2 separate regions of the Homo sapiens genome follow, and region 1 is linked to region 2. Evidence: fine-mapped expression QTL. A gene starts in region 2. The other region holds a variant in brackets. All regions are shown on one strand. Distances are from middle to middle. Region 1 overlaps TTLL12 (tubulin tyrosine ligase like 12). Region 2 holds the start of TSPO (translocator protein).

Evidence for each region. PIP is the estimated chance that this variant, and not a neighbour inherited with it, causes the effect.
Region 1: its variant is fine-mapped to the expression of TSPO in whole blood (INTERVAL, PIP above 0.99).

The regions. Positions count from the first base shown.
Region 1 is chr22:43,171,980-43,180,299 of GRCh38, forward strand. It overlaps TTLL12 (tubulin tyrosine ligase like 12), which reads right to left. Exons shown (of 14, transcript NM_015140.4): 4 at 7,862-8,021; 5 at 7,640-7,773; 6 at 4,341-4,417; 7 at 2,520-2,636; 8 at 2,230-2,424; 9 at 1,736-1,847; 10 at 424-575. Among named protein-coding and RNA genes, the nearest start is that of TTLL12, 11 kb to the right of the region's middle. The variant CA/C (reference allele first, on the strand shown) is at 4,750.
Region 2 is chr22:43,146,960-43,155,279 of GRCh38, forward strand. It overlaps TSPO (translocator protein), which reads left to right and starts at 4,600. Exons shown (of 4, transcript NM_000714.6): 1 at 4,600-4,645. RefSeq lists enhancers at 933-1,142, 5,193-5,292 and a silencer at 4,352-4,571.

The DNA.
Region 1 (8,320 bases), 25 kb after region 2:
CCCAACTAGGGGTTCAGGGCTCAGGGCAGGACCACCTGCTGCTCAGGCGGGAGCCTGTTCCCTTGTCTGTGTGGCTGGGGGAGCCCCACAGCCCCACTGAGCTGGGGTGGAGGTGAGTGAGGTGCTAGCTGTGAAGCCTCTGCAGGTCCATAAAAATGGCACCTGGTTCTCATGTTGGTGCCCATTTTACAAAGAATGTTCACATCCATTACTGTGGGCAACACCAGAACTCTGAGGTGGGCAGGGCAAGTCACCGCCAATTAACACCAAGGGAGATGGGCTCCAAGGGCCGCTAGCTGGGTGAGTGATGGAGGGTGCCTTCCAACAACATTTTCTGATTCCAAAAAGGGCCCATCACCCACCCGCTACCTCCACCCGGTCACCCAGCTCCCCGACCCTGGACCCAGCCGGCCCTCCACTTACCGGTTGGAGAACCGCAGCCAGAACACATCATACACGAACAACCGTAGGGGCCTCACTGACCGCAGCAGCACGATGTAGCGGATGTCGAACTTGACCTTTCCCACGTCTTCTCGAAGGAACAACACGGGACTTTCGATGTACTTGGACACAACCTGGAGGACACAGGTGCAAGCTCGCTGGTGGCCAGGACAGAGCCCCCTGGGGCTCCCGAGCACACAAAGCCACGCAGGGGGCACAGACATGGCTGCACTTTACTCCTCCTTCTGCCTTTTCAAACCTGCCTAAGTTGCTGCAAAGTCTTTTTTTTTTTTTTGAGACAGAGTTTTGTTCTGTTGCCCAAGCTGGAGTGCGGTGGCACAATGTTGGCTCACTGCAACCTCTGCCTCCCGGGTTCAAGCGATTCTCCTGCCTCAGCCTCCTGAGTAGCTGGGATTACAGGTGCCCGCCACCACCCCCAGCTAATTTCTGTATTTTTAGTAGAGAAGGGGTTTCTCCATGTTGGCCAGGCTGGTTTCGAACTCTTGACCTCAGGTGATCCGCCCACCTTGGCCTCCCAAAGTGCTGGGATTACAGGTGTGAGCCACCGCACCCTGAAGCAAAGTCTTTATATCCATTTTTAATTGAAATGAAATATAAATTCTCACCCATAATTCCATCCACCCCCATCCCATGGCCTGAAGTCTCCACGACAATCGTCCTCATGATGCATTTCCCGCCAGCCTCTGACTATGTACACAGTCCAGGCAGATCCTGTGTCCTGCAATCCCAATACTGCTTCTGGATGTCCCCTCACTATGAATCTTTACCACGGCTCTGAGAGGCTCCTTGTCCAGGCTCAGCCACCTCACCCTGCTGGGCAGCCATACCTGGCACACTATGTGGTAGGAACTTTGCGATTAGACGCACCCAGGACAGTTCTTTTTTTAAAGACTGGGTCTTGCTCTGTCGCCCAGGGCGGAGTGCAGTGACGCGATCACAGCTCACTGCAGCCTCAACCTCCCGGGCTCAAGTGATCCTCCTGCCTTAGCCTCCTGAGAAGCTGGGACTACAGGTGTGTGCCAACATGCCCAGATAATTTTTAAAGTTTTTTCCCTTGTAGAAACGAGGTCTCCCTATGTTGCTCAGGTTGGTTCCAAACTTCTGGGCTCAAGTGATCCTCCTCCACTTCCCAGAGTGCTGAGATTACAGGTGTAAGCCACCCTGCCCAGCCTGGACCTGTCCATAAGGACCATGATGCTCGGTCCCCTTAGCCCCACCTCTCACTGTCCAGCCAGGGCCCTGAGCCCTGGGGCTCCTGGTCTGCGGGGCCCACCTTGGGGGTGCTCTCTCGGTGCCGGATGATGCTGTGCAGGCTCTTGGTGACGTGGGTGTCCAGGCTGCGCGCCAGGTTCCAGGGCTTGCAGATCCAGTGGTTGTCCTCGCCCCTGGGGAGCAGAAGGGCTGTCTGGGGGGCGCCTGGGGCCTGTGTTCCCAGATGGTGCCACCCCAGGACCCAGAGGCAGAAGAGGGCAGCCCACTTCTCCTTGGGAGCTGAGGGGGCACCAGAGAGCTGTCAGAGGCAGGGGCATGGGAAACAAGGAGGGGTTTGCCAGAGGCCAGGCAGCTGCGCTGCGGTGGAGAGGACAGCCCCAGCAAAAACCTGGAGAGGTCCTGCGGTCCGTGAAGACGGCCGTGACGTTCGGGGCCCACAGCTCGGCTCCTGCACCACGGTTTCCACAGTGGGTGCTCATGGAGGAGCAGGCGGACACAGACGCTGGGCCGGGGAAAAGGGCCATGGAGCACACCGATGCCGTGTCTGGGACTTACCACCTTTCCCGCTGCTGGAAGTAGCTGACAAACTGGGGCAGCTCAGTGCGCAGGTTGAAGGTTCGGGGCAGCCAGGGTGGGCCCTCGGGGCCACCTGCCCGGCGCGCGATGGAGGCCAGGCAGTCCTTGACAGTCAGCAGGTTCTCGCAGGGGAACTGGTTCAGCAGCACGCCTGGCCTCTCCTGGCTGAGTTTCCTGCAGGGCGGAGGCAGGTGCGCCAGCTCAAGGGGAGGCCGGCAGTGCCTAGAAGCCCTGACTGGGAGGGCCCCTGCGGCCAGAGGTGCCCTCACCTGTAGTCCTTGAAGTGTGAGAAGTTGAAGAGGATGTCGGCGTCCGCCTCACTCTGGGTGAGGGTGAAGCGCGGGTGGGTGAGGCTGCTGGCCACCTGCTGCACGTCCGTGTAGACCCTGTGGGGAGAGCCCGAGCTGGGTGATCCCGGCTCCCAAGTGTCCAAGCGGGACTCCAGCACTAGCCCTGGCTCAGGGACTCCCTTCCCTGTTTTGAAGCTAATGAGGCAGAGGCAAGTCCTGGGTTCGAGTCATGATGCTGGACAGCCCGGGTTCAGACCCCGCTCCCTCCAATCTGCTGAGGGAGGGGCGCAACCTGTACCCTTGTGACCCCTGGTTCCCCATCCGCAGGACTGGACCACACCGTCCACCTCACATTTGTCATTAAAATTAAATGGCATAATTTGGGTGTTTATTATGTGCTAGTTCTTTCCTCTCACATGCAAAACAAGAGGATGAGGCTGGGGCCACCAATCTCAGACAGGCACACCAAGGGCCTCCGTGAGGCCTCTGCCCCAGAGGAGGTGGAGGGACCTTAGGCCCTGGCCAGGTCACCACAAGACTCACGTCTCAGCAAGAGCCCCTGGGCTGCCCAGCTGGGGCAGAGGCCAGCAGGGAGGAAAGCCCTCAGGCCCGGTGGAGGGGGCAGAGTGGAGCAGCCTGCCTGTTCTTGGCTAGACCAGGTTTGGGCAGCCAAGGGGAGTGTCTGGGAGCCTCAGGGAGGGGCTCCTGTGAAGGCTGAGGTGGAATCTGCTCTGCATCTCTGGGTCCTCACCTGTGCCTGCTTCTGCAAGGTGTCCCGCCTGGACCTGCCGGCCTGGCTTTCCTTAACTCAACAGCCACACCTGCAGCCTCCTGGGAGGGGCCCCTACTGGCAGCCCGGGTGCCTGTTGTGGGTGCCCAGCATGTTCCTGGCCAGCAAAGGCTCCCTGCTGTGGGGAGGGCTGGCATGCACAGGCCTGGCTAGTGTCGGTTTCCAGGACTGGATGAGCATCGTATCCAGGTAAGCGGAGCAGCCCCATGACATGCAAGGTTGGTAACAGGACCCCTTGGTGCCCAGAGGACAGGGGTGGGATGGGGACCAGTGGTGGCCAACGCTTCTGCCCAGGGGGCCCTTTACCCACTCACTGCCAGCATTTCCATGGCCTATTCCTATTTTTAACTTTCAAAGATGAATTTATTTTATTTTTTTTTAAGGAGTCTTGCTCTGTAGCCCAGGCTGGAGTGCAGTGGCCCGATCTCAGTTCACTGCAGGCTCTGCCTCCCAGGTTTCAAGTGATTCTTCTTCCTCCTTGGCCTCCCGAGTAGCTGTGATTACAGGCGCCAGCCACCATGCCCTACTAATTTTTTTTTTTTTTTTTTTTGTATTTTTAGTAGAGACGGGCTTTCACCATGCTGGCCAGGCTGGTGTTGAACTCCCGATCTCAGGCGATCTGCCTGGTTTGGCCTCCCAAAGTGCTGGGATTACAGGCATGAACCACTATGCCTGGCCTCATAGGTGAGGTGTGAAACCTGGGAGGTGGAGGTTGCAGTGAGCTTAGATCGTGCCACTGCACTCCAGCCTGGGTGACAGAGACAGACTCTGTCTCAAAAAAAAAAAAATCTCCAGAAAGCCCTGCTCGCTCTCTCACTTTCTGCGGCATTTTCTCTGGGGTCCCAAGAACTCCACTCCCTGCACGTGTCACTGCTGTGCCCAGACAGGATGCGGCTGACTTGCTGCGTGCCACGTGCCAAGCACTGTTCTGGGGCTGTGGGAACCACGAAGCATGGGAGGCGGGGACTGCGGACAAGTCCCAGCCCAAGCAGTGGGGGGGGGCTACGCACTTGAAGATGTGGCCGTGGGGGTGCACCACGGGGTTGATGTCAAGTGGCAGCTTCTCCTTGTTTTCCTCCAGAATGGCCTAAAAGGAAACACACCGGAAGTAGAGATGAGGTCAAGGAAGGGAGGGAAAGGCCGGCCGTGGTGGCTCATGTCCATAATCCCAGCACTTTGAGAGGGTGAGGCAGGTGGATCACGTGATGTCAGGAGCTCGAGACCAGCCTGGCCAACATGGCAAAATCCCCACTCTACTAAGAATATAAAAATTAGCCAGGCATGGTGGCGCGTGCCTGTAATTCCAGCTACTCGGGAGGCTGAGGCAGGAGAATCGCTTGAACCCGGGAGGCGGAGGTTGTAGTGAGCCGAGATTGCGCCACTGCACTCCAGCCTGGGAGAGAGTGTGAGACTACATCT[CA/C]AAAAAAAAAAAAAAAAAAAAAAAGGAAAAGAAGGAGGGGACACAAGCCTCACCACCTGGCATCAGGTTCTATGGCCTCAAGGGGCGCATGGCTGCTCCTCCCTCCCAACACCCCAAAGCCTCTAACCACCCCCCTCACCCCAGGATTCTGGGGCTCCAGGCCCCTCGGATGCCGAACAGTCCTAGTTTGGTGTCAAAAGAACAAGGTAAACATTGTTGCACATCTTCTCGGTGCTACCTCAAAATCGCAGGGGGCGAGAAGGTGCCAAACCCCTCCTGAGAGGAGCCGCTTTGTCCTAGGAGCCACGAGGGCTGTCGGGAGCTTCTGCAGTGTGATGATTTAAAACATGCCCACGTGGCTGCACATGGTGGCTCAAGCCAGTAATCCCTGCACTTTGGGAAGCTGAGGTGGAGGAGTACCTGAGCCCAGGTGTGTAGGACCAGCCTGGGCAACATAGTGAGACCCCGTCTCTACAGAAAAGTTGAATAATTAGCGGGGCTTGGTAGCAGTTGCCTGGAATCCCAGCTACTCGGGAGGCTGAGGCAGGAGGATTGCCTGAGCCCAGGAATTGGAAATGGCAGTTAGCTAGGATCATGCCACTGTACTCTAGCCTGGACAAAAGCAAGACCCTATCTTTTTTAAAAAATTAAAAAAAAAAAAAGATTAAAACATGCCTACAAACTCTTTGACACTATCTTCCAAAGGCAGAGCCGCATCCATCTCTGAGGGTGGGATGGGCCTAATGAGTTGCTTCTAATGAGCAGGAAAAAGGTGGAAGGGACAGGGTTGCTTCTGCAACAAGGCCATGAAGCCTGAGGCTTCCTCTCTGCTCTCTCCCTCGGATCACTTGCTCTGGGAGAAATCAGGTGCCACATCCTGAGGACACCTGAGCACTCTTATGGAGAGGCCCACAAGGCAGGGAGCCCAGGCCTGCTGCCAACAGTCAGCACCAACACAGCAGGCATGCACATATGCCATGCAGAAGCGGGTCCACAGCCCGACGGGCGGCCTGTGTACCTCAAGGGAGACTTGAGGCCAGAGGCACCCCGTTGAGCCACTCCTGAACTCCTGTCCCACAGAAATCGTGTGAGATAATAAATGTTTACTGTTTTAAGGTGCTAAGTTTTGGAGTTACTTGTTACCCAGCCATAGCTAATCAACATAGGCAACCCTGGGCCCAGAGCACAGACCTGATTGTAAAGGGTCAAATGGGAAAAAACAAGGATGCGTGGCCTTGTATCTCCTCCTCTTCCTGGTCAGCCCAGAGCTTCCCAAGGAAAAACACAAACTTTAGTTCATGTTCCATTAACAAACAAACCCGAGACCAGGAAGTGTTTGTCCCTCCAGTTGCATCCACGAAGGCATTCACTTTTTCAGACAAACGTGTACTAAGCACCTTCCTGGTGCAGGGGCTCTGGGAGGCTTGTAAGCACCCTTTGAACCAACAAGACTGAGCCCCTTGTTTTTGGCATGGTTGGTTCAATCACCACTGACTTAGACCGAAAGTGAAAGGAGGCCCCCCCACCCACAGCCCACCCCTGCAATCAGCAGCGCCCACACAAACACGCCACCACTCCACACACGCCCGCTCTATTTTTTTTTTTTTTTTGAGACGGAGTCTCGCTCTGTTTCTCAGGCTGGAGTGCAGTGGCGCGATCTCGGCTCACTGCAAGCTCCGCCTCCTGGGTTCACACCATTCTCCTGCCTCAGCCTCCCGAGTAGCTGGGACTACAGGTGCCCGCCACCACGCCCAGCTAATTTTTTATATTTTTAGTAGAGACGGGGTTTCACCGTGTTGGCCAGGATGGTCTCGATCTCCTGATCTTGTGATCCGCCCGCCTCAGCCTCCCAAAGTGCTGGGATTACAGGCATGAGCCCCCACGCCCAGCCTCCACGCGCCCACTCTCACATGGGTCAACTCGTCTAACCCTTCCCGAAACCCTCCGAGGCACTTAGTGAGCGCCTGGTGTGCAAAAAGGATGACTTCAGTCGCCGTGGGGGCAAGCCTGCAGCCTCAGCTGGACTCCAGCTCTTCCCCCTGCTGTGTGACCCCTGGCAAATGACTTAACCTCTCTGTGTCTCAATGTCCTCATCCTCAGTAAAATGAAGATAAAAACAGAACTGTAAAATTGTAAGGAACTGAGTGGCACACGCCCACAAAGTACTAAGCACAGGCTCCCTTGTAGGCTGGTTCCAGCCTACGGAAGCAGCAGCAGATGGGAGAGGAGGGGAAGGAGGAGAGATGGGTCAGGGTAGGAACCTCCTACCCAGCCCTGACTGGTTCTGGAGGTGGCTACGCTCCCACAGGCTCCTCTTCCTCCCCCGGCACTGGGGCCTCGACAACTCCGACTCCCTAACCCGCCAGCCTCCTTGTATGGGGCCTGGATGAGCTCTTACCTCCAGCCAGGCACTACCGAGTGGGCCAGCTGGGTCCCTCGGGGCCCTGACCAAGACTGAAAGCACCTTTGTTATCAATAACAGTGACCATGATGGTAACTCGCAGGCCTGCAGAGGGAGGGAGGCACGCGATGTGTGAACACAGGGTGTTTCCATGCCTCGGTGAGATGAGGACAGGGGGCTGAGTGGGGCTCATGGCCAAGACCAACTGCACAGCCCCCTCCTTCCCAAGGGAGCAGCGTGGACCCCCTGAGGACGGATGCCAGCACCAGGCACCCTGGGATCTGGAGCCCCCACCGTGCAGCCACAGGCAGCTTGTGTTCACTCTCTGAGCCCCTCGTCTCTCAGAGGCTCCCAAAACTCTATGCCTCCCACGGTAACTGGCTCAGGGCCTGGCACCCGGCTGGGGTTTGATAACATTTGGTGTGTGCACAGAGAACATTCTGGAAGCTACCAAGCAGACAGGCCTGGTGGGTGGAGGAGGGCTGCACCTGGTAGTGCTCGGCGGGCGGCTCGGGTGTGCAAGAGCTGAGGTCCAGCATGTCGGTGGGGGCCCAGGGCAGCAGCATGCACTTCCGGATCAGGGGGTCCGTCTCTCCGTAGGCAAAGTCTCGGGTCACCTCCTCTGTGCCAAGACATGAGTGCCCATCAGAGGGGGTGACGGGACACTGGGCTGAGGCCCCTCCTCCAGGGCGGGCAGGTGCTGGACTTACCGCCAGTGTCCAGGTCCCTCAGGGGCCACAGCAGCGTGTAGGCCACCTGCTGCGGCATGTAGAAGAAGGGTGCCGTGGCGAAGCTGGGCACGTCCGCGTGCTGGATCCGCGAACCGAACTCGTCCATGATATACCACACCGGCATCTTCTCCTCAGCTGTCTGCAGACAGAGCACATATGGCACCTCTCGCTCACCCATCCACCCACCGGAACTCCCTTCCGGAACCCAGACATCGACCACCAGCCCACAGCCATTTCTCTGATCTTGGAGGCCCTCTCACATGTACCCCAGGCCCTTTAGCTAAGCTAGGGGCTCCGGGACAGCAGCCCTGCCTTTGCAGACCAGGACACAGGCCTGGGTAACACAGCGTGAACACTCGTGGTAAAAGGGCGTTTGGTAACAAGGCACTCAGCCCAGCACCCGTAGGGGTGTATATGGGTTTGAGGGTAATGGGGGGG
Region 2 (8,320 bases):
TCACACCTGTAATCCCAGCACTTTGGGAGGCCAAGGCGGGTGGATCACCTGAGCTCAGGAGTTCGAGACCAGCCTGGCCAACATGGCGAAACCCTGTCTCTACTAAAAATACAAAAATTAGCCAGGCGTCATGGCACATGCCTGTAATCCCAGCTACTCGGGAGGCAGAGGCAGGAGAATCCCTTGAACTCGGGAGGCAGAGGTTGCAGTAAGCCAAGATTATGCCACTGCACTCCAGCCTGGGCAATAGAGTGAGACTCTGTCTCAAAAAAAAAAAAAAAAAAAAAAAAAGAGAGAGAGAAAAAGGAAGTTAGAAAAACAGCCCTAGAGGCCCTACATTCTGAGTAATAGGAGTTCCAGAAAGGAAGTGATTGCTGCACAACATAAATTTGAAAAGAAAGAGAAGTGAGAAAATAGAGGGAAGGAAATCAAAGAAATAATCCAACTTCTGAAAAGTAAAGAATGAGCTTCCAGCGGGAAAGTGCCTGTTGAGTGCAGGCACAGTGGAGGAAATGAAGCTGGGTGTGTTGGAGCTCGCCTGTAGTCCCAGGTACTCGGGAGGCTGAGGGAGAATTGCTTGAGCCCGGGAGGCAGAGGTTGCAGTGAGCCGAGATCGTACCACTGCACTCCAGCCTGGATTACAGAGTGAGATGGTCTCAAAAAAAAAAAAAAAAAAAAAAATTAGTCCCACATAGGGGAATATCAGTGTGAAACTGCAGAACTCTGGGGCCCAAAATCTTAAAAACTTTCCAGGAAGAACAAAATCGGTTACATATAAAGGATCCACAGCGTGGCCGGAGCAGGATTGCTTGAGCCCAGGAGTTGGAAACTTGTCTGAGCAACATAGCGCGACCCTGTGTCTACAAAAAAATAAAAACAAAACAAAAAACAACCAAAGACTTCCGAAACAGAATGGCTTTAGCCTGCTCAACCGCAGTGTGGCAGCTGGCCAACAGCATCTCTTCATGATTCTGAAGGACAACGATCTGCAGCTCAGCCAAGCATCAGCCATCTATGGGGTAGGATGCAAGAATTCAGCAATGTTACCTTCCGGGCAGTCTTTCTCAAGAACTCCTGGAGGATAGGCTCAACACAAGCAAGGGGGGACCAAGAAAGAGGAAGATGTGAAATCCAGGAAATAAGGACCCATGCAGGAGGGGGCGGAGGTGGTGAAGAAAGACCCGGGCATGGTGTGTGTACTGGACCTGTGCAGCCTGTCCAGCGGGGAGCAGCGTGACTTGAGATGTGTTGAGAGCTGGCATTACCAACATCCCTACTGCCATGCTGCTCATTTAGGTACAGAATGCCCCACAAGCTTGGCCCAGATTCTTTTTTTTTTTTTGAGACAGAGTCTCACTCTGTTGCCCAGGCTGGAGTGCAGTGGCATGATCTCGGCTCACTGCAACCTCCACCTCCCGGGTTCAAGCATTCTCCTGCCTCAGCCTCCCGAGTAGCTGGGATTACAGGTGCCCGCCACCACACCCTGCTATTTTTTTGTATTTTTAGTAGAGACGGGGTTTCACCGTGTTAGCCAGGATTGTCTTGATCTCCTGACCTCGTGATCCGCCCACCTCGGCCTCCCAAAGTGCTGAGATTACAGGCTTGAGCCATTGCACCTGACGCTGGCCCAGAATCTTGCCTGCACCTGACTGGTCCCTATCACAGGCTGAGGAAGCCCTGTTCTCGCCCTGCTGCCTGGGTCTGCTGAGGACACATGGCTCACCTGACAGGCCTCACCTTGCTCCTGAGGTCTGAGCACCCTACTCCTCAGGGCACTGTGAGCTCAGAAGCAAGAGACAGAACAGCTCATGCCCCTGACCATTTCCTGCTGAATGCGCATGCCACAGCTGTGCTCAACGTCCTCACAGGGGAGCCCCACCCACAACCATGCCCTCTGCCTGCCCCAGAGGGGCCTCTTGTCAGTGCCCACAGAGGCCGGGCCCAGCCTGTACCCCAGGCGCTCAGCTGAGTTTATCTTCCCGGGAGTCTTCTGGCCTGGCCATGGTGCCTGTTCTGCCCCAGCTGGGGGTGTGCTGCCTCTCTGCACACATAGTACTCAGGGAAACACACCCGGGTGGGATTCATAAAACCCTAAAGGAAAGCAAGGGCGTGATCAACCCAAGTCAAAGTAAAGGTGATCTCTGGGGAGGGGAGGAATCGCTGGGGAGGTCACCAGGGCGCTCCTAGGACTCTCGTAATGTTCTGGTCATAACTGGGGAATGGGCACACCTGGTATTATTGTTGTAATGTGTACACGTGTGTGGTTTTTTTTTTTTTTTTTAAATTGAGTTTTGCTTTATCACCCAGGCTGGAGTGCAGAGGTGTGATCACGACTCACTGCAGCCTCCACCTCCCGGGTTAAAGTGATTCTCATGCTTCAGCCTCCCGAGTAGCTGGGATTAAAGGTGCCCGCCACAACGCCCAGCTAATTTTTGTATTTTTAGTAGAGATGGGGTTTCACCGTGTTGGCCAGGTTGGTCTCCAACTCCTGACCTGAAGTGATCTGCCTGCCTCGGCCTCCCGAAGTGCTAGGATTACAGGCGTGAGCCACTGCAACCAGCCACATGTGTGTCTTATTTTTATTTTATTTTATTTTTTGTTTTGTTTTTTTGAGAAAGAGTCTCACTGTGTCACCCAAGCTGGAGTGCAATGGCGTGATCTTGGCTCACTGAAACCTCCACCTCCCGGTTCAAGCGATTCTCCTGTGTCAGCCTCCTGAGTAGCTGGGATTACAGGCGCCTGCCACCATGCCCAGCTAATTTTTGTATTTTTAGTAGAGACTGGGTTTCACCATGTTGGTTAGGCTGGTGGCGAACTGCTGACCTCAGGTGATCCACCGGCCTCGGCCTCACAAAGTGCTGGGATTACAGGTGTGAGCCACCACGCCCGGCTAAGAAGGGATTTTTTTTTTTTTTTTTTGAGACGGAGTCTCGCTCTGTCACCAAGCTGGAGTGCAGTGGCACCGTCTCAGCTCACTGCAACCTCTGCCTCCTGGGTTCAAGAGATTCTCCTGCCTTAGCCTTCCAAGTAGCTGGGATTACAGGCACACACCACCATGCCCAGCTAATTTTTGTATTTTTAGTAGAGATGGGGTTTCACCATGTTGGCCAGGCTGGTCTCGAACTCCTGACCTAGTGATCCACCCACCTCGGCCTCCCAAAGTGCTGGGATTACAGGCATGAGCCACCGTGCCTGGCCAGAAGGAATTTTAAAAAAGAAAAAAAAAAAAAAAAACAAAGCTGCCAGGTGCGGTGGCTCACGCCTGTAATCCTAGCACTTTAGGAGGCCGAGGCAGTGGATCACTTCAGGTCAGGAGTTCGAGACTAGCCTGGCCAACATGGTGAAACCCCATCTCTACTAAAAATACAAAAATTAGCCGGGCATGGTGGCAGGCGCCTGTAATCCCAGCTACCGGGAGGCTGAGGGAGGAGAGAATCACTTGAACCCAGGAGGCAGAGGTTGCAGTGAGCCGAGATTGTGCCATTGTACTCTAGCCTAGGAGACAAGAGCGAAACTCCGTCTCAAAAAAAAAAAAAAAGAAACCCAGAAGAAAAAGATGAATGAAGAATGGAACCAAGCCTGGGTTATCCTTGTCTTCAGGCCAACACAGTAAAAAATAGATTTATGTATGTTTGTTTTTTAATAGAGGAAGAGGCTCACAAAGGCAAAAATGCCAGGTCCTAGGAAAGCCATACTGCAGCCTGGCTGGTCCCCAAGGAGGCTCCTGGCTTCTGTGTCTGGGTAGAAGTAGCCACAGTTCTCCTTGGACCCTGCAGGATCAGTTTGGGCCAACGTGGCTGGTTCAGGCTGATGGGGCGTTGCCAGGCTGAGTTGTCTGGAGGGAGCTGGGACAGCCTTGAACTGCAGCAAGACAGCCATAGTGCCAAGGGCCTGGGGCTGGACACACCCTGCATGGGAGTGGACCTGGGCAGCTGGAGGCCACCTCTGGGCTGTGATGATGGCAGCCTCCCCTCACTGAGCGCCGAGCATCTGAGGGGTGTCCTGCCTGCATCACCGCGTTGCGGCCTCATCAGTCCCACGACTTTGTGCCCATTTTACAGATGAGGAGATGGAGGCCCAGAGAGCCAGTCAGAAAGTGGCTGGGCCAGGACTAAGAGTGCAGCGCGCTGCCTCCGTGCCCTGCGTCAACAGCTCAAGGAACTGGGGTGCTCCGGAAATGGGGCCAAGGCTGCTGGGCAGCAGGACGCTCAGGGCCTTGGCCTCAGGAGAGGTAATTCCCCACTCGGAGATCGGTCTTGTTGCTGCATTTTATAGATGGGAAAAGTGAGGCTAGAAGAGACGACAAACGACACGCCGTTGGACACACGGCAACGTTTTAGATGTTGGGTCTGGCCGGGCGGCCGTCACCGGTCACCATGGGGAGGAGGAGGAGCCGAGAGACTTGCTCGCGGCCGGGGGGAGGCAGAAGCGCGTCCCGCGGGAGAGGTGGCTTTGAGGAGTGAGCTCCCGGTCCCGCGGGGACGCGAGTGGGCCCAGTGCCCGGGCTGCCAGGCGGGGCGGGGCGGGGCCGGGCGACTGAGAGGGGCGGGGCCTGGCGGCTGGGAGGGGCGGGGCGGATGCGGGGACAGCGGCCTGGCTAACTCCTGCCAGGCAGTGCCCTTCCCGGAGCGTGCCCTCGCCGCTGGTGAGTGAGGACGGGACGCGGAGGGGGCAGCGGGAAGTGGGGGCCCGCATGGCTGCGACTCTTGGCAGCGCCGCGGGACAGAGGGAAACTGAGGCCGGAGCCGCAGACTGGACACCCGAGGGGGCGACCCGGGGCAGCACTTGGGGCTCGGCTACCGGGTCAGGGGGCGGCGGGCAGCAGAGTCTGGGCCTCCGCGGCCGGGGTTCCAGCGCGGGCCGCCTCCGGCTGGGGGTTCGGGAGGGAAAACTTGGACAACCCTGCCACGCCCAGCCCTTGGCCGCGTGGCTTCTCCTGCAGGAAGCGCGGTCCCAGGAGTGGCCGACGCTCCCTCTCCTGCCCATTCCGCGGATGGGCAATCCCAGGCGGAACTCCCTTGAGGGTCTCAGAATATCTGGGAGACCTCGGGCTCTTGATCTCCGAGACACCCCGTTTCGTAGTGGAGAACAGTCCAGATCGGGGAAGTTTATTTTGCCCAAAGCCGGTTAGAGGCCCCCTGGCCCTCGATTCCCAGTGCGGGGCTCAGGTGCGTTGCAGCCTAGACGGGTCTTACTGTGAGCCGAGCAGCCTCTGGGACCTGTCTGCTTCCCCTACCCCTTGCAAAGAAGCCGGAGCCCAGGTAGGAGAAGCGGGGGCTTCCTGCTGTGAACGCGCTGCTGGCCAGGGCAGCTGCCAGAGGCCATGGCCTGGCGTGGGCCTGGAGCCCCTCTGGCCAGCCTGCCAGGGGCCAGGGCTACGGGATACCAGCAGCGTGCCCTGGGCTGGATGGCAGGAGAGACAGGACTTGAGGCTGTCCCAGAATGGGCTCAGGCAGGGCGAGGATATCAGGGGAGGTGGTGTACAGGAAGCAGCCGCCCAGCTTGCCTGGCACACAGCAAGCCCTGCCCATGAAGGCCTACTGCCAGAACAGTGGGCGAGGCCCGGCGTCTCTGTGGAGTCGGTGGGGCCCGGGACAGGGCAGCCTGAGGCAGGTTTCCACTGGCGGTGAAAGGGGCCGTGTGGCAAGGACAGGAGAGCCAGCCTCAGCCCAGCAGGGGAAGGCGGCCCCTGAGTCTCCACCTGGCTGCTGGCAGCCCCACAGGGAGGTTCGGCGAAACTGAGGCTTGCCAAAGAAGCCTTTGTCCAGAGTCACGCAGCTGGCGCGGTGGAGCCAGGGCCAGAACCCGTGCAGGCTGATCCCAGCCTGCCTTCTCCACTGTGCCCCGAGGACCACTTTCTTTCCTGGGAGTGTGTGTGTGCACATGTGCTGTGTCCTGTCGTCTGTACACACTTGTGCCTGGCGTGAGGCAGGATGTCTGGCTGGATCTACCAGAAAGTATTCACAGCGGGTTCTCCAGCTGGGGTGAGGGGCTTGGGCTCGCAGGGAGGGAGCCTACTTTTCACTTTAGCTTGCTTTCTTCCTTTCTTCCGTCCTTCCTTCCTCCCTCCCTCCCCTCCCCTTCCCACCCCTTCTTTCTCTTTCTTCTTTCTCTTTCTTTCTTTCTTTCCTTCCTTCCTTCTTTCCTTTCTCTTTCTCTTTTTTTCTTTCTTCCCCTTCCTTCCTTCCTTTCTTGTTTTTGTTTGTTTGTTTGAGACAGGGTCTCACTCTGGTATGCAGGCTGGAGTGCAGTGATGCAATCATAGCTCACTGCAGTCTCCTGCAGAACTCCTGGGCTCAAGCGATCCTCCCACCTCAGCCTCCCAAAGTGCTGGGATTACAGGCATGAGCCACTGTTCCTGGCTTATTTGTGTTTTCTTTTTTTTTTTTTTTTTTTTTTTTTTGAGACGGAGTCTCGCTCTGTCGCCCAGGCCGGACTGCGGACTGCAGTGGCGCAATCTCGGCTCACTGCAAGCTCCGCTTCCCGGGTTCACGCCATTCTCCTGCCTCAGCCTCCCGAGTAGCTGGGACTACAGGCGCCTGCCACCGCGCCCGGCTAATTTTTTGTATTTTTAGTAGAGACGGGGTTTCACCTTGTTAGCCAGGATGGTCTCGATCTCCTGACCTCATGATCCACCCGCCTCGGCCTCCCAAAGTGCTGGGATTACAGGCGTGAGCCACCGCGCCCGGCTTATTTGTGTTTTCTTTACTTTTGATGGTGCAAACAATGCTTGGATGTGCTCTCTGTTTAAAACGGTAGTCTTTTTTATTTTTTTTTTTAACCACTAGACCACTAGGGAAGTCATTCTTAATTTCTTATTTTTATTTATATATATATTTTTTGAGACGGTGTCTCGCTCCATTGCCCAGGCTGGAGTGCAGTGGCTCCAGCTGGGCTCACTGCAACCTCCGCCTCCAGAGTTGAAGTGATTCTCCTGCCTCAGCCTGGCTAATTTTTATATTTTTAGTAGAGATGGGTTTCACCATGTCGGCCAGGCTGTTTCTTTATTTTTTACTAAAAAAAAGTTTAACCCCCGAACCTCGAAGGAAAGGGAAGTAGTCTTTCTTAACAGAACCAATTCCCCCTGGATACCCCACCCTCACCCTACCCTCTCCCAGGCCACTCGATGGCCAGGTTCGCTGTGGATTTTTCCAGACCTGTGGGCTGTTTCACTGGTTACTTTTGTAATGAAAAATGCACACAAAGGTTACGATGAGGACGATTAGCCATGAATCATTTTTAAAAAGCCTGAAAACAAGTCCCTGGGACAGTGCTGGCTTCGTTGGAGAGACAAGGCTCAGGGGAGTGGGTGCAGCTGGGGGTCGGGGTGGGGATCAGAGAAGGGACACATTCCTTATTGTGTTTCTGGGTCGCCTTCTTTTTTTTTGTTTGCTTTATTTATTTATTTATTTATTTTGAGACAGAGTCTTGCTCTGTTGCCCAGGCTGGAGTGCAGTGGCGTAATCTTGGCTCACTGCAACCTCCTCCTCTCGGGTTCAAGCAATTCTCTTGCCTTAGCCTTCTGAGTAGCTGGGATTACAGACGTGCGCCACCACACCAGGCTAGTTTTTTATTTTTAGTAGAGACGGGGTCTCACCATGTTGGCCAGGCTGGTCTCGAACTCCTGACCTGAGGTGATCTGCCTGCCTCAGCCTCCCAAAGTGCTGAGATTACAGGTGTGAGCCACCGTTCCTGGCCTTCTGGGTCACCTATAGGGAGGTCTCCAAGAACAGAAAGACACCCTGAAACCCACTGGCTCGACCACCACCTCATAGATGGGGACACAGAGGCTCAGGAGATGAGATACCTTGGGGCAGCGATGGGTCTGGGGTCTTCGGGCCAGGAGTGAAGCCTCACAAGACCTGGAGACCCTGGGTCCCACCCTCAGTGGGGAAGGGCTCAGATTCTGCAGGGCCCGATGCTCTGTGGGGGCTGGGATGTTGCCGCGGCAGGTGGAGAGAGTGATGCTACTGGCCCTGAGAGAACCTTCTGGCACCGTTCAGAGGTGGGGTGGAGTGGCCTGCGGGTCCAATCCTGGCGCCGCAGGCTCTATGAGCCCTGTTTCAGATGAGGAAGGAGGCTGAGACGGGCGGTGACACAACTCCTGGCAAGTGGTCACGCGGCCCAGAGCAGCCCGGCAGACACCCAGCTCAAAGGGAGGGGTGGGGTGGGTTTTGGAGTCACTCGGACCTAGAAAGTTCTGTGACTTCTCATGTCTCAGTTTCCTCATCTGGAAAATGGGACCAGTCACGAGTCCACCATGGAGGCCGAGTGGGCCGTGTGGCTCAGGGAGAAGCAGCTGGTCCCCTGTGGCTGCTGT